3 linked regions of the Homo sapiens genome follow. The protein of the gene in region 2 purifies or fractionates together with the protein of the main gene of each other region. This does not show direct contact. Each region holds a gene or a part of one and is shown on either strand. Other genes may lie near its edges. The genes, in order: USP44, TBL1X and CACYBP.

Region 1 (7,959 bases), on a different chromosome or scaffold from region 2:
CGTGCCGGGATCAGCGCGAAGCCCCTTCCAGTCCCCGAAGCCCTCGCCCGCGCCCGTTCTCCCCCAGCTCGCCCCCTCCAGCCCGCTGCGCCTTGCCGCAGCATCTCCGGGCACTCTGAGGCTGCCGCCGGGACAGGGTCGGAGCGCCGCAGAACCCACCGAAACTTCCCAGGGGGGCAATTCAAAATTCGCCGGACGCGTCGCCGCCGCGCGCCCCTCGGCTCATTCCCTTCCGCGCGCCCGCAGCCCCAGGCTCTCCCTCTCTCAGGACCCCCCAGCGCCCTGCGCGGCGAGAATAGGCCCCCAGGTGCCTCCCGGCCCCGGGGGCTGCCGTCGCACGTCCGCTCCCGCAGGGGTCCTCACTCCGCCAATCGCCGCGGCCGCGCGCCCTCGCGCACACTCACCAGCCCGAGCCGGGGCGGCCATCTTAGCGCTCACCCCGGCCCCCCGCCCCCCGGTTCGGCGGCCGCGACGACCCGGTGCGGCGGCTACGACAGCCGTGACGCGCAGCAGGCCCCGCCCCCTCCCACAGCCCCACCCCTGCGCCGGCTCTTCGCGGGCACCGAGAACCTGCCGGTGGCCGCCTTCCGCGCCTCGTGGGGGGGTCGGGGCCACGGACGGTCCCCGGCGCCGCAAGTGGGTCTGCGCGAACAACAAGCACTGCCTCCCCGGGCGGGCTTCGCACCTGTAGTGCCGTCGGGACACGGGAGGGTAAACCCAGCGTGTCCTGTGTGCCTGTGAGCCGCAGAATCATCCACGGACGTCGTTAGTCCTTCCTGGAATTTCTGCGATTTACACAACGTCGAATTGTTTGGCAGAAACGCGTGGCAAACTCCGTTATCTTTAAAACCTTCCCCAATTCACTGGCATAGAAATTCTTAAAGAAAACGTTTCCTTCTTGAAGCGACCCCTGGGTGTAACTTCAGTGGCGATGACGGCTGTGAATTGGGTTTTTTCGCACCGCAGAAGGGCGAGAGAGGTTCCAGAACGGGCACAGGAAGGGAACCGCTATCTAGAACTGCCTAACCCGAAATTGCCCATTTAAATAATGAAGTACATACCGAAAAGGAAAAGGAGGGGAAATCTGGAAAACAGGAAAGTCAAGGCTAAGGTACCTGAAAATTAACCCATTAATATTTATTGGATTCTTTGTGTTCAACTCTGAGCCAGATTGTTGTTTTTAACTGAACCTATACTCAATGACAAAGCAGTTCTACTTTGGCCACCCTGTGGAGTGTACTGAAAATTTAAAAACTCTCCAAGGAGAGCTTAAAAAGAAGACAAACATGCAAAGTTAACAATACATCAATGCAGTGCAAAATCTTGCAATATGTAAGACAAGGTATAAAATTGTTCCTATCTTTTCATCATCAGTTTTATTCTGGGGAGTATGTTTCAGTGGTATGACCTGAATAAAGAAATGAGTGCACAAAGGTATTCACAGCATATTATCCAAACACCGTAAAAGGCAAGAAGGAGCGGCACAGGATTCTAACTAACAGGAAATGGCTAATTAAGGTCTGACATAGAGGCCGGGCGCAGTGGCTCACGCCTGTAATCACAGCACTTTGGGAGGCCAAGGCGGGTGGATCACCTGAGGTCAGGAGTTCGAGAGCAGCCTGGCCAACATAGTGAAACCCTGTCTCTACTAAAAATACAAAAATTATCCGGGCCTGGTGGCGGGCACCTGTAATCCCAGCTACTCGGTAGGCTGAGACAGGACAATCGCTTGAACCCAGGAGGCGGAGGTTGTGGTGAGCCTAGATCCACAATTGCACTCAAGCCTGGGCAGCAACAAGAGCGAAACTCCGTCTCAGAAAAAAAAAAAAAAAAAAAAAATCTGATATAACACAGGAAGTTCTTATGTTAACAAAATAGATACAAAATAGCAACAATGTCTAATCAATTCATGTTTGAAAAAAATACCAAATATGTACATTAAGGTTACAACTGCATAAAATGTAGTCATGCAAATAAAGATTAAAGGGATGAATTTGCATAGTTTAATACTCATTTTGTTCTTTTTTCTATATATTTAAGTGCATAATAATTCTGATTCAATAATGACCCCAGTGCACTTCTCCCACTCAAAACATCTAACCTCTATGTTGTACTTTTGCCCACCACCTGAATTTCTCAAATGCATTAAAAGCATTACATGAGGGCATCTCTTAAGATGAAATATTTAAAATTTAAGTATTTCTGGCATGCAATATGGTTTTTCCTGTAATTCCTTGAAAGCAAAATATTAATAATAGAAAAATCAAAACTCTTGCTTTCCTATTATAATGCCATAAAACCATTCTGGAAGGTCGTTTGGGAGATAGGAAGAGTCTTAGTTGCCTCCCTCTGATCTAGTAATTGGGCGGGGTCTTTTAAGGACTAAAATGATGTGAATAAATGAAGAGAAAAAGTGAAATGGGAAGAAAAGCAAAGGCAAGCTGTGTAAGGCATAGGTGGAGAGTGCTGAATAGTGTCTTCAATAAAATGCCTTAATACAATGATGTAAGCTAGGAAGAGGTGCGGAGTGGGAAGGGAAGAGGCTGGAGACAAATTCTCATTACTAGTGTTAGTAATTAAAGAGCAGATGTTTGTAGTTTAGCTTTTTCTTCATACTTATTACTACTTATTCAACTTTGAAATTTCCTCAGCTACCATTTTATTCATGATCTTCACTATCTAGGCCTAAATTATAGCATGCTCTAGCTCATTTCCTGAGCTCCAGAACCTCTCTATTGCAATTTTATTTTTACATAGCAATCATAGTCATTCTTCTCCTTAAATTTTCCTATTTGTTTTTTAACCCGTCTCATCGAATCTAAGCTTTTTACTGTAACATTAAAAAAAAGAAAAGAAAAAAGCCTCCTTCCCTGCCCACCTTCATCAATGATGTCCCCAAACTTACCTATTAAAACCTCAAAATCAGTCTTTCCCCAGGTCGGCCTTTGGATAACTCAGAGGTCAGTCCCTGCAGGATCGCCCAGTTTCCATCAGGGCAAATGCTGATCTCCTAAGTGAAAAGTCCTGGCGGCTGCCTCCAGTGCCCCCCTGCAAATCATTACAAATCAACCTCTTTCAGGTTTGGCTTAAACTCTCACCTCCTGGAAACTGCTTTCCTGAAGTCACAAACCGGGCGTGCAGATCCCCATCCCCCACCCCCAGCAGTGCATTATTATGCAGTCACTGCTTTTGTTCCGAGTTCTGAGCCTGCTTCTATTTGCATCGTAACCTCTTTGGGGGCCGGGACTGTGCACTTGCTCCCTTTCTATACCTCTCCACAGTTCCTAGTACCGGCCAAAAACACTGCTGAAATGCCTAATGAATCAACCAGAAGTTCCTTAGCATAATATAGGAGCGTGGAAGTGATGTTTAGGGGGGCTTCCCTTGCTTCCCTGATCCCCAGATGGAGAGAAATGGCAATTTGCCCTTCCAAGGTAAGCAGTTTCCTAAACCAGATAAAATTTTAACGATTCTGAAACCTAATGGATGTGTAACTACTCAATTCTGAGTTACTACACAAACAGTTTTGCCCTTTGTATCCTGAGAGAAAAGTACGAATGAATTAAAAGAAGACAAAACATTGTAAATTTCATAAACCTCAGAGTGGCTTTTTATGCTTTATGTCGATTTTTAGAATTTCCTAGTCCAGTCTTTCATGAATCGAAGAATATTTCAGGAATCATAATTGCAGACTAAAGAATTTATGAGCTTGTGAAATTTTAGGAATCACTTTTAAGACTTTTCAGAGTTTTACAGACAATGCTCTTACCTAATAACTAATATTCGCTTAACATTTTTTTCAACACCTAAATGCCTGGCACCATGCTAAGCATTGAGATATTCATAGCATTCATTTCAATGGTTATGAGGAGATGAAGGATTGAGCAGAGGAAGTGGGTAAAGAAACGCTAAATAACTCAGCCATAAACTTTTGATTAAGGTGTAGCAACACACTTCAGTTGAACTTTTTAAATGAGAGGAACCCAAACGACCTTAAATTTCTGGCAAATATGAAAGAAAGGAGTTGAGAAAAAAGGAGTATGGAAAAAAGAGCAGCAGATGTAAGCTATGGCCTTAGTGGAGGAAAGTGAGTAGAAGGGGCTTTAGAATTCGCCTTTTTTCTTTAATTCTAAGAATGAGGTTGGTAGCAGGTAAGGAAGGTAAATGCCAGCTGAGTAGATGGTACCAAAGTTGATTTGTTTTTAAAAGACCATTGTTTATTTGGTGGTCTGTCAGGGAAACTTGTACCTTGCAGGTGAATTTCCAACATAGGCCTACTGGAAACTGAAACCCTGAGCCCCAGGGTTTAGGTATAAATGGAAGCAAAATTGTGAAGTGAGTCCATTTCTCCCCCTTTTTAAACATAAACATCCACTCCACCTCCACCCTATACTCAGTTTTTCTTTTCTTTTCTTTTCTTTTTTTTTTTTTTTTTGAGACAGAGTCTCGCTCTGTCACCCAGGTTGGAGTGCCGTGGCGTGATCTCGGCTCACTGCAACCTCCGCCTCCCGGGTTCAAGCAGTTCCCCTGCCTCAGCCTCCTGAGTACCTGGGATTACAGGTATGCACCACCACGCCTGGTTAATTTTTGTATTTTTAGTAGAGACGGGGTTTCACCATGTTGGTCAGGCTGGTCTCCAACTCCTGACCTCGTGATCTGCCCGCCTCGGCCTCCCCAGGTGCTGGGATTACAGGCGTGAGCCACCACGCCTGGCCCACTCTATACTCACTTTTACAGGGATCCTCAGGATGCTGTGTCCAGGGCTTTACTGCAGTCTGTCTCTCTTCCTTCCCATCAAAACTCTTCCCATTTTGTTCAGGACAGGTACACCAACCTTTCATTCTCTCTTTTTATTTATTTTTAAAATGGAGACAGGGTTTTGTCACCAGGCTGGAGTGCAGTAGCGTGATCATGGCTCACTGCAGCCTTGACCTCTCAGGCTCAAGCAATCTTCCCACCTCAGCTTCCTGTGTAACTGGGACCACAGGCATGCGACACAACTTCTGCTAATTGATTTTTTGTAGAGATGTGGGGGTGGAGGGGGGTTCTCCCTATGCTACCCAGGCTGGTCTCAAACTCCTGGCCTCAAGCAATCCTTGTGCCCCGGCCTCCCAAAGTGCTGGGGTTACGAGCATGAGCCACCATGCCTGGCCCCAACCTGTCATTATCTAAGGAGCTCAGTTATGAAGTAAAGTTATCTACTTTGTATTATTAGTGTTTAGTATTTTTTTTTCCATTTCTCTCTCAGACTGTTCTACCTCCTGTAGACACCCAGAGTTTGGAATTTCTAAAATGACATTTTAAACATTGTGACAGATCAGTGGGATAGATATTTTGCTAAGCCAAGGTACTTCCTTTCCAAGGATAAGCTATGGGAGGTGATGACAGCAGAATACACACACACACACACACACACAATACACGCAGACACACATATATATACTCATATGCACATATATAATTAGAACTCATTTAGCTATAATAACAATTTGTCCATCTAGTTATTTGCAATCCTTTCAGGATTTTTAAAATTTCTATCTCATTTGTAGAGTTTGGAAAATAGTATCTGTCCTATCTTCTTCACAATAATGTTTTAAGGACCAAATGAGGTTTTGTCCATGGAACCTGCCTAAACTGTAAGGAGAAAAGTCAGTGTGTTTATCATTATTTCTCTCTTAGGTTTACTATTACCCTGTAAAGTTCTTTGAAGTCAGAAACAGACTTTTGTTCATATTTACAACCCCTATAGCAATTAATACAGAACCTCACTCAGGATAGATAAGCAGTATTCCCTTAAATCAAGTTTTACTTCTGTACTAAAGTAATAGTCAATTCAAGGACAAGTGCTATAAAGGTTAAAATTAATTCTATTACTCTGAGAAACATGGCAATACTATTTTAGTCTTCCTCTCTCATAGTAGGGAGGGAAAGGATCTGGAAAGGCAGAGGGAGAGAGGGGGAGAAAAGAAAAGGCACTACAGGTGGAAATTTCAACTCTTAAAGTTTTAGTAAACCATGCCAAAAAGATACTAGTAACTTTTCATGAGGAAGAGATTATTGGGGTACCCAAGTTTTGTTTTTATACTCTATACATGTTTTTAAACCCATTTCTTTTTTTTAAAAAAAAATAATAGAATGAGGAAAGTGTAGATGGATAACTGTAGCTATTTGTATAATTATTTACATCTTGCCAAACCATTTGGAAATTGAAATCCTGCAGTGTCGCTCCTGGGTTGTAAAAGATAAGAAAAGTAAATAGAAGGCCCCCTTAATACAACGTGATATTGCATCATTTAAAAGAAACCACAAACTGTCTATTCAGGATGTATGCATACAATAAAAAGAGCTAACAATTCTTCATGTGTAAGAGCTAGGATGATCAACCTGCTTTTCTCTGCCATCTTAAGGTTGCTTCTTTTTAGGCCAAGGTACCTCGTGGTAGCAATCATTGATTTAGTCATCTGTAAATAGTGTTTGTAAGCCTCTTTTCCTTAGCTAACCAGTGATTAACTCCTAGAAAAACCACATTTTTTTTCCTGCCACCCAGGAGTGCAGTGGCGTGATCTCAGCTCACTGCAGCCTTGACCTACCAGGCTCAAGCAATCCTCACACCTGTGCCTCCCAAGTAGCTGGGACTACAGGCACATGCCACTACACCCAGCTAATTTTTGTATTTTTTGTAGAGATGGGGTTTCACTATGTTGTCCAGGCTGGTCTTGGACTCTTGAGCTCAAATGATCCACCCACCTGGACTTCCCAAAGTGCTGGGATTACAGGTGTGAGCCACTGCACCCAGCCTTGAAAACCACATTTCTGAGGGAAACTCTTTGGGGGAAGGGAGGTTGTGTGTAAGTTAGATAGTCCCTATCTATTTCATTTTATTTTTGGTTTTGAAATTAGTGTTTAAAGAATTAAGCATAATGAATACTTGATATTAATTTCTTGGATGTTTTTTGAGATGGAGTCTCACTCTTGTCACCCAGGCTGGAGTGCAATGACACAATCTCGGCTCACTGCAACCTTCGCCTCCTGGGTTCACGTGATTCTCCTGCCTCAGCCTCCTGAGTAGCTGAGATTACAGGCACCTGCCACCACACCCGGCTAATTTTTTTATTTTTAGTAGAGACGGGGTTTCACCATGTTGGCCAGACTGGTCGCAAACTCCTGACCTCAGGTGATTCACCCGCCTCGGCCTCCCAAAGTGCTGGAATTATAGGTGTGAGCCACTGTGTCTGGTCCTTGGATTTTTTTAAATGTCCTAAATATGCGGCTCCTAATCTTTAGAAAAATAATGAAGGATGAGCCAAGCATTGTAGGGGGGGGAAAAAAAGCTTGAAATATGACATGTAATGGGATGTTTTTCACAAGTATAAAGTTTTATTTTGTCTGTTTGGATGAAAACTCCAAAATGCCACAGGAATGATCACAGAAGGAAATTTATATAAATTTACCATTAAATGCCTATGAAATAATCTCTTCTTAAAAATCAATGGTAGTAATAAAGGATGACTTAAACATTTATTTGCTTATGCCCATAACATTGTATTAAATTTAAGATAAAAGAGCCGGGTGCAGTGGCTCACGCCTGTAATCCCAGCACTTTGGGAGGCTGAGGAAGGTGGATCACCTGAGGTCAGGAGTTCCAGACAAGCCTGGCCAACCTGGCGAAACACCGTCTCTACTAAAAATACAAAAATTAGCTGGGTGTGGTGGTGGGTGCTTGTAATCCCAGCTACTCGGAAGGCTGAGACAGGAAAATCACTTGAACCTGGGAGGCAGAGGTTGCAGTGAGCCGAGATCATGCTACTGTACTCCAGCCTGGGCGACAAGAGCAAAACTCTGTCTCAAAAAAAAAAAAAATTTTTTTAAGACAAAAATGTGGTCTTATCATTAGTCACAAAATTAAACTGTGTAAGACAATTATAATTCTGACTAGCCTCATAGTGAATAATTTTCCCC
Region 2 (7,124 bases):
CAATAAATGTTTGCCACATGTTGGTTTGCACCATGCAGACGTCCATGTCCAAAGTCACCCCATCCTGTTAGGTTCTGCAAATTACTCGGGGGTAATTCGGGAACTCAAACTCCCGGTCAACCAATCCGCTGATGAGAGAACATTCATTTGCTTTGTCTTTCTCCAACAGCCAGCCTGAAATAAAGAATGAAAAGGAAACACACTAAAAAACATGATCCCTGGACAGAACCACCTTTCAGAACAGCAGGCGGCTGCTGTGACTGCCATGTCACTGCGTTCTGCTCCCAGCTCCCTATCTCACACAGCAATCCTAAACAGAGGCTCAAGGTACTTCCTTCTGGAGAAAATACAGAGCTCTGTCTTCAGTCATTCAGTCAACGTGGGCCCAAGAGTTCCAGAGCGAGAGGAAGAAAGCACACCCACCAAGTTCTCTAATATCAAAATAGAGCAATTTATTCAAGACACTGAATATGATCTGTTGATTCTCTCTTGAAACAAATGAGCTACAACACACAAGGTGATTTTTTTTTTTTTCTTCAAAGAGCGTGAGGGTGAGTACAGGTGGCGGGGGGAATGAAAAGGCGGTCGCTGTCATCTGAACAGAATCGGAAAAATGCCAATAGAGAACATGTCTGGCTGTACGTCTGACACAGACAATAAAAACTGCACAAGCCAGAATGCAAAACTTCAGTGAGTGGCGGAAGGAACATTTCTGCATTTGACAAGAAACATAAGCTTTTTTTTTTTCTTTTTTTAAATGGCGGAACAAAAGGTTAAAAAACAGAAAAGCAACAAGAACAAAGCAGACCCTTACATTTGACAAAGTGCACTTCACTTGGCTCCATGATCTATTTCTTAGAAAGACTAAACAAAAGTCAAGTCCTACGGTGTCGCGAGGGGTCAGAGGGTTTCACCCTGTAACGTCCGGCCCTTTTGGTCCCCCTTGGGGCAGCATCCCTTTCCCAGGTGTGTGCTGGACCTGACTCTCGGTCACTGTGAACCCGACCAAACACTCTAGGAAGGTCTGTCATGCTATGTCTGCTTTCAAGGTCACGTTTGGTCACTAAGACTTAGGCATTCCTCACCATGTTTTAAGAGCTGTAAACAACGTTGAACAATAACATTCCACAGGCCATTTCTTGATTACAGGGATGACTCTACCAACATGCCAGCAGCAGAGAGGGTGAGTAGTGGTGTGCAAATGCTGGAGGCTCTGAAAACGGCTGTCCATGGTGTTGTCCCGCTGAGAACGGGGATGGATATGAAGGGTGCTAGCTGCATCTCGCGCTTGGTTTTGCTTGCGGCCGCAGGCTGGGGAAGCCAGGGATGGAGCCTGGGGTCCGAGGCCTCCCAGCCCAGGTTTCTACCTAACAATTCCGACATGGTTCACATTCATCAAGACTAAAGCCATCCCTCGGGAGAGACCCTGGCTACCGACATTCATGTGAAGATTGTCTAGTGAATTGCTTGCGACACATCCCACCATCGCCATCCCACAGTTGTTACTGGTTTGTCAAGCATAAGCCATGCCCTAACGACAGGCTGGCCTTTGACAGCAGATGTTCTACAGAGATGAGTGCATTTTTATTTGGGTGGGGTAGAGATGGTGTCTTTTGGACCCCAACAAACTGTACTCTAAACTTCACAGAGTCCTTGGGACGGGAAATCATCACCTCATCCAGGGACACTGGCTATCTTCAAAGATGGGTGCGGCGACTCCACATCACTGTGACCTTCTTTGCTAAGTGTTTCGGAAACAGAACACGAATAAAATACTCATCTCAGAACCAGAGCACTTTTTGGTCTTCTGGGACATGAATAATTCACATACCCAAGTGGAGGCCAATCAATGATCTGAGAATGATCAACGCACCCTGGCTTTTGCAGGTGGTCCTGGCACGTTCCAAGTTCCACAGAAGCCCTGACCCTTCCCCGATGGCTGGGTTTTGGCTCCGCAGATGAATGCCACCTTCACAATAACACCGTCTCACTGCTGGAACACACACCAGATTGCACCCTACCCACTGCTGGTGACCCAGCAGCCCCCACGGGCTGGGCCATCTTCCTCAGCCCTTCTGCCCACAGGAAAACCAATGGGAGAAGAGGCCCTTGTCCTTTGGCCTTTTCCCCCTTGCTAATGACAAAAATAAGTCCGTGTCGGGTTATGACAGCAAGCAGATGGAGGTCACCAGATTCACTGAAATGAAGCTCTTCTAGGAACACAAAGCCTTGTTTAATTTTTTAAAAACAGCAAAAAGATTATTTAAAAAAGATCTTTCTCCTAGTCTTCTGTGAGACAAAGAAATTATAAAGATGGCAGAAATTATTAGCGACGTTCTACCTCTATAATTCACGTTCAGGACTGAAAATCTTCCTTCTGCATTCATTTCTGTCAGCGTTAGACTAAGTGACATGCGGGCGCCTCTATGTCAGCTCTGCAAGGACTCGCCAAGCCTGCTCTTGGAGAAATGACCATCGGTCGTTATACGGTTGTGGGAAAGATGTAGCCAACACGCCTAATCCAGCCGAGCAGTCGGTTTCGACGGCTTCTGCAGTACCTTATGGTTCTGCCAATGCTCCCTTGAGGCCAGAGGGCGCGCGGCTCTTCGCTGCTTTCCTGCTGGCTGCCAAGGTGCATACACACCAAAAGATGCGAGGTTCTTCTTCCAGCCGGCATGGCGGGGACCTCCCTCACTGGCTGCAGAGCAATCTCGCTGCTGACCCCGAAGACTGACCCTTGTCCAGCCAGAGTTTTCCTGACCACCTTTCCTGAGGCTGAGGGGAAAGCCAGGGGCTCCCTCAGGCCCTGCCTGTGGCTTCTTCGGTTCTTTTTAAAACATGAATCACACAAAGCTCTCTATGTCTGATGGCCATTTTAAGATTTTAAAATTGTTTTAACATAAAAATATTATTTTTTTTTCCAAAAATACTCCAGGCTCTTTCTCTTATAAGTCATTTTTTTTTCTCCTGTAAAAAGCCCCCCTGCCCTGCCTTCTTACATAAAGCACTTACTACGCGCCAAAGTGCCCTTGAGACCTAAGATCTGAAGCAACTATGAGAAAGGTACAGAGGGAGAGAGAGAGAGAAAGAGAGCACGCCAGTGAGAAAGCGAGCGCGAGCGCGAGCGCAAGGGGAGGAGAGGGTGGGAGAGGGCGGAAGGGGGAAAGCTGTCCGTGGGAGATTGTGTCTTCATGTCCACGGGGCTGCATCTCTTGATGGTGCACTGAAAAAGCAGAGCTCACCAGACAGAGTGGAAAGGCAGGGGGAGGGGCAGGGAGCAACAGAAGGAAGAGACAACAAGCCCAAGACAGCTTCCATCTCAGACGGAAGGCCCCCAGAAGATAGAATTCCAGCCGACTGAAAAACCACCCAATGAACAAAGAAGATTCTAGAAAATAGAAAGTGTTGGGATTACAAAGTTGCGCGTTTCATCGGTACAAACTGGTCTTTGAACCTCCTTTGTGAGAGCAATTGTAGTGTCCAAATTGTTAGGGAAAACAAAAAAAAAAAATCCCAAGGAGGAGGGTTTTTCCCCCTTCCCTGTTTGGTTTATCACAGCATTTTGCTTTTTTTTTGGCACAGCTTTTTACGTTTCTTTCCATTCAGCCATCACAGAGCCTGTTCCGGGTGGAAACCAATCCACACGCCTCGAGCTGGTGACTTCCTCCTTCCCAGGCTGAATGTCCTCAGTGGAAACCATTCTATCCCCGTTTGATATGATTTGCTTCTGTTTTTGCTTGCCTTTTAAAAACTTCTTGATGAAGATTACGAAAACATATAGACTCCTGCGGCCAGAGACGAGTTGGTTTCAGAGTACACTCTAACGCAAGTCAAGTTCCTACAGTTTTGGAGAATAGAGCTGCAACCCTACACATTCACGGCTGGTCATTAGAATTCTTTTCTTTTTTCGATAATATTTTGTGGTTACTTCCGCAGATCCAAAACACACACCTGGAAGGAAAGATAAAGCACCTGTCATCTTGAGAGACAATACAAAGATGCCTTTAGAGTGAGAAGTCGGCAAGCTACGGCCCCCACGCCCAATCTAGCCCTCCACCGATGTTTGTCAGTAAAGTTTATTGGAACATCGTCATGAAGGGTCAGAGAAGCTCTCATAACAGACTGGCATCTGGACATCGGACCGAGCAAACTGAAGCAAACAGCACAGAGCAGAAAGGCCAGGTTAAGGGTAATGATAGGAATTAACAGAGTGGCAGAGGTCCCAGAAGGGACACCTGCAATCGTGGGGCAGATGACAATACGAGCCCAAGTACACAGCCTCTGACAACATTTGGGGACTACTCTGACCCTTGGCCGTTCAGCCAGAACGGCCGCTTGCCCCAGAGGTCAGGGCAACCTCAAGTCCAGGGGAAAATAAGAAATCCAGATGCCCCATGGGAAGAGAAGAGGGCCCAGGAGACCTGCAGGATGGCCACCAGAGGCCCGGGCTTCTCAGCCACAGCATGGGTGACAATTGTGGCCACCCTGTGCACAGTAGGAGGTTTAGCAGCATCCTCATCTAAGCACAGTCACGCGTCACATAATGACGTTTCCAGCAACAACGCACCGCACAGACCGCAGTGGTCCTGTAAGATTATAACCATATATCTGCTGAACCTTTTCTATGTTTAGATAGATCCGGACGCACAAATGCTTACCATTGTGTTCTGGTTGCCTACAGGAATCAGTATGGTCACCCGCTGTCCAGGTTTGTAGCCTGGGAGCAATAGGCTGTACCACACAGCCTCGGTGTGGGACAGGTATTATCATCTAGGTTTGTGTCAGTCACTCTATGATGTTCAGACAAAGATAAAAGTGCCTAATGACACATTTCCCAAAACGTTCCCGTCATTAAGCGACACATGACTGTAGTGACAACCTAAAATGGCTCCAGATATTGTCTAATGTCCTTAGAGGTGCAGAATCACCCTGGTTGAGAACCACCAATTTGACTGAGAAAATGTTGACTAGAAGGACACTCTGGAAGGGACAAGGAGAAGGCCATTCCCAGATGTGGTACCAACTCCGATGGGATCCAGCCCAGAAGCTTCCTTTGGCACTGGGCTAGGCCCTTCAGGACACGAATGCTGCACACGCCCTGGAAGCTCACTTAGGCATCAGCTGCCCCCAACACCCCACTCCCCAGCAAACCAGAGGTGTTGCTTACAGAGCCGTCGGACGCGCTGGCACCCACTTTGTCTCCTCGGGCGTTCCAGCACACCTCGAAGATGCCGCCAGTGCCTCGGTAGCTGTGGACAAGATTTCCACTCTGCAAAGCAAAGCAGCTGTCACTTACAACGCAAGGGGCGCCTGCGACAGATGCAGGTGTGGAATGTGCGCTCCTCCGGCCCTGACGTTTCGTCATGAACATTTTCAAGCATGGTGAAATTTAAGGGTTTTCAGTAAGGACTCTGGGGGCCATGGAGATGTGCCTCTAGGACTTCCCACCACGAGGAGTGAACCTGATTACTTATGCCTGCGGAATCTGCCACATTTGCGTGGATTCTGAGGCTGCACCCAGCTGAGGACTGATGGAGGCGGGAGACCATGGCAGTCACCTGCTGAGACTCAGACTCATCTGGTGGGTAAGTGGCTCATGGACTCTCCATCAGCACGACCAAAACTTTCTACAGACCTGTAAGGGCCATCCCTGACTCTTCCTACCCTTCCCGTCTCCTTCCCAGGGTCAGACTGGCCTTATGGTCTGAATTCTCCCTTCCCCCTACCTTCCTCCCTGTTTCCATCACAGCTCTTTCCCCCAATAAATCTCTCGCCCATCTAATCCTGTTCTGGTGTCTGTTCTTTGGAGGACCTGAATGAATACAACATAATGAATACACCCACCCCAGTAGCAATTAAATTGACTGTAATTCATGATTAAATGTAATAATATGCCATGACATTAAAATGTACGTATTTTTGGACATTTGAAAGAAGAAATGCATAATATACATGTAATGGAAAACACCACAGACCATTGGTTTCCGGTTTAAAACAGCATTAACTTGACAAATCTAAGAGGTAGGGGAAGTTGAGGCCTTTGAAAGAGTTGAATAAGGCCAGGCGAGGTGGCTCACCCTGTAATCCCAGCACTTTGGGAGGCCGAGGCGGGAGGACGGATTGAGCCCAAGAGTTCAAGACTAGCCTGGGCAACACAGTGAGACTTCGTCTCTACAAAAATTAATTTTAAAAAATAAAAAAGAGAGAAAGAGTCGAATAAGCCTTCACTCATGATTCACTATGGTGACAGGCAGGAGAAATCTGAACACCGAGACCAGGAGGGCTGTCCCAAATCCTCTGCTCAATTGGGCCCCTTAAAGGGTGGTGTTCCATGAACTGAGAAAGGTGTGTGTCGGCAGTATTACAGATAAGTATTTTTATACTTGGAGAAAGATTAAAGTGGGCTTTAAGATTTCTCTTAAGAAAATTCCTAAGGATTTCTTGGCCGGGCGCGGTGGCTCATGCCTGTAATCCCAGCACTTTGGGAGGCCGAGGTGGGTAGATTGCCTGGGGTCAGGAGTTCAACACCAGCCTGGCCAACATGGTGAGACCCCGTTTGTACTAAAAATACAAAAGTTAGCCGGCTGTGGTGGTGCGCACCTGTAATCCCAGCTACTCGGGAGGCTGAGGCAGGAGAATCGCTCAAACCCGGGAGGCAGAGGTCGCAGTGGGCCGAGATGGCATCACTGTACTCCAGCCTGGGTGACGAGAGTGAAACTCCGATCCAAAAAAAAAAAAAAAAAAGAAAAGTCCTAAGGATTTCTTTGATTTATAAAAAAGGGTTGAAACAGTTCAGTGAGTTCCTGACAACAGGCTGTACCTAACTGATCATGTCATTGTTTTGATAATTGATGTGTTCTTTTTACAAATCCACCCATTACTATTTCTAGCGAGGATTTCAGGAACGGAGACTCTTGGACACTAGTGCTGAGATGCGTGCTTCCCGGAGAGCTATCTAGGGCTGTGGGGCTGGGCTTGGCGTCGGGTTGGCTCTACGCAGGGTCCACCATTTCCCTTCCTTCCCTGAGAGGATGTGGTTCACATGAGGTCCCTGGGAAGCCTGTGATCTCAGTGGACCCCTTGCCAGTGAACAGGGCTCATCACCATTGAGTCCACAGGGGGAA
Region 3 (2,705 bases), on a different chromosome or scaffold from region 2:
CTGAATGATAGTATCTTCCGGTGCTTTCGTTTCCCCATTGTTGTATATGTTTTCTTTTTAAAGGAAGCCCTCCTATGACACTGAAACAGATCCTAGTGAGGGATTGATGAATGTTCTAAAGAAAATTTATGAAGATGGAGACGATGATATGAAGCGAACCATTAATAAAGCCTGGGTGGAATCAAGAGAGAAGCAAGCCAAAGGAGACACGGAATTTTGAGACTTTAAAGTCGTTTTGGGAACTGTGATGTGATGTGGAAATACTGATGTTTCCAGTAAGGGAATATTGGTGAGCTGCATATATAAATTTGACAGATAGCTATTTACATAGCCTTCTAAGTAAAGGCAATGAATTCTCCATTTCCTACTGGAGGATTTATTTAAATAAAATATGCTTATTAAACACTCCTGCAAAGATGGTTTTATTAGTACCCTGGTCATTTTGTTCAAGGAAGGGTTATATTGCATTCTCACGTGAAATATAAAAAGCAAGTCTTGCCCAATAAAAACGCTACATTGTGTGTATTTTTTGTTCAGCTAAGAATTGGAAAAGTATTTGCTTGCCTTTTAAGTTACTGACATCAGCTTCCACCAGTGTAAAAATTGAGTAAAACCTGAAGTTTTGCATAAAATGCAAATCGGTGCCTGTGCTTGAAGGTTGCTGTAGAGCATCTGACCCCTTATTACCACCTTAAGCAATGTATATGCCATGCATTACCATGCACTAATTCAATCACAGGTGTTTCTATCTAGATTTAAATATATTTGTCAATGAATGTGGAATAGAAAATCTAAACATGACAATAATAGACATATCTTTGTATGGTACCAGTTAGTTTTGCCGTGGATCAGATGGTTTATAAAAGTAATAACCATAAAGCAAAAAATAATTTGAAAGCCCGTCTATTCCTATGCTCAATAAAGTTAAGTTTTTCTTCATTAGAACAGTTTTATGATTTATTTGTCTAGGAGTATGTCAGAAAAATCAGGCTTTTAGTAGGAATTACTCCTATTCCCCCTGAAGTCAGGACCAGTGCCTGTGATCTCCATTACTTTATTTTCCTGGAGGTATTAGCCAACACAGTTAGATCAGAGAAAGCAATTGAAGCCAGGCATGAAGGCTGGCGCCCGTAATCCCAGCTACTAAGGCTGGAGGATCACTTCAGCCCAGGAGTTTAAGGCTGCAGTGAGCTATGATGATGCCACTGTACTGCAGCTTGGGTAACAGATTGAGAACCTGTCTCATTAAAAAAAAAAAAAAAAAAAAAGCCGTTAGACACACAGGAAAAATCCAGAAGGGTAAACTAAACTAAAGCTACAATTAATATGGGAATTTGGAAGAAGTGGTAGGATTTAAAATACAGAAACAGTTTATGTATAGGATAGCTATAAGTAAATACTGAAACACATTATGCCTCTGTAATTGGGGTTGACACATGAACAGAATAGCAGACACAATGCATATGAAAGTTACAGAATATGGTAAAAGTGGGGTAAAGATGGGTTTTTAATGATACTAAGATAACTGAAAATAGGCATATAGATATATTCCAAGCCGCCTGACGATCTAATTGTAAAAAGTAAAGCATACAAATACTAGAAGAAAATGGAGGAAAACGACATTATATGTGACTTAAAACCTAGAAGAAATAAATAAAACTATTGATCAATTTTAACTACATAAAAATGTTTATAGGACAAGAAAAACCCCACCATAACCCAAGGCAAACAATGTATTGACAGGATTCCAATAATTAAGAATACTTCATACAAAAAGAAATGTAAATGACCTTTAACATGTAAAGATGCTCACCTTGTTCAGAAGAGAATAAACCAGTGTTTTTACCTTTCACTTGAAAAAGAAGTATAAAAACAACTGTATTGAGTTGAGGCTGTGGAGAAATAAGGACACATATATGGGAATGGAATGCAAAAGTTAAACTTTGGTTAACAAGAATATTTGGGCAGGTGCAGTGGCTCACACCTGTAATCCCAACACCTTGGGAGGCCAAGGTGGGCGGATCACTTGAGGTCAGGAGTTCAAGACCATCTGGCCAACATGGTGAAACCCTGTCTCTACTGAAAATAAAAAAAACTAGCTGGGCATGGTGGCAGATGCCTGTAACTCCAGCTACTCGGGAGACTGAAGGACAAGAATCACTTGAACCTGGGAAGCCGAGGGACGAGAATCACTGGAACCCGGGAGGCAGAGGTTGCAGTGAGCTGAGATTGTGCCACTGCACTCCAGCCTGGGTGACAGAGTAAGACTCTTGTCTCAGAAAGAGTATTTGGTAATAACCATCAGAATGACATATTCATTTATCCTTTGACCCAGAATTTTAACTTCTTTCTGGGCTCTGAAAGGTACATTTAGAAAAATTTGGAATGCTATATGCAAAAGATTAAAAATACTCGTGTCTATTTAACAGGAATGTATTATGGTGCATCCACATGAGGGAGTACTTAAGTCACAAAACAATGAAGAGTTCTATATAACGTAAAATGGTCTCCAGGATAGAGTAAGTGGAAAAGCAAAGTGCAGAACATTTATGGTATACCCACTACATTTGTGTAAGAAAGGGTGAGAAATGTGAATGTATGCACATAGGTGTATTTGCTTATGTTTCAAAAAGAAACGAGTAAACCCAAAGCTAATAAAAATTGTTAGCAGGGGAAGGAAGGAGATGAGGATGGAAGCTATTCTG

Evidence for each region.
Region 1: the proteins of TBL1X (region 2) and USP44 purify together in Homo sapiens (affinity purification with mass spectrometry; 2 studies listed by BioGRID, with this or other methods). This does not show direct contact.
Region 3: the proteins of TBL1X (region 2) and CACYBP purify together in Homo sapiens (affinity purification with western blotting; 2 studies listed by BioGRID, with this or other methods). This does not show direct contact.

Annotation. Positions count from the first base shown.
Region 1 is NC_000012.12:95,548,367-95,556,325, forward strand, and holds the start of USP44 (ubiquitin carboxyl-terminal hydrolase 44), read right to left. Parts: upstream 3,111-7,959; 5' UTR 2,906-3,110; intron 1,988-2,905; exon of another isoform or gene 686-1,987; intron 437-685; exon of another isoform or gene 160-436; intron 1-159.
Region 2 is NC_000023.11:9,713,047-9,720,170, reverse strand, and holds the end of TBL1X (F-box-like/WD repeat-containing protein TBL1X), read right to left. Parts: intron 5,270-7,124; coding exon 5,168-5,269; intron 3,952-5,167; coding exon 3,925-3,951; 3' UTR 431-3,924; downstream 1-430. UniProt on the Homo sapiens protein: F-box-like protein involved in the recruitment of the ubiquitin/19S proteasome complex to nuclear receptor-regulated transcription units. Plays an essential role in transcription activation mediated by nuclear receptors.
Region 3 is NC_000001.11:175,009,860-175,012,564, forward strand, and holds the end of CACYBP (calcyclin-binding protein), read left to right. Parts: intron 1-63; coding exon 64-220; 3' UTR 221-2,168; downstream 2,169-2,705. UniProt on the Homo sapiens protein: May be involved in calcium-dependent ubiquitination and subsequent proteasomal degradation of target proteins. Probably serves as a molecular bridge in ubiquitin E3 complexes. Participates in the ubiquitin-mediated degradation of beta-catenin (CTNNB1).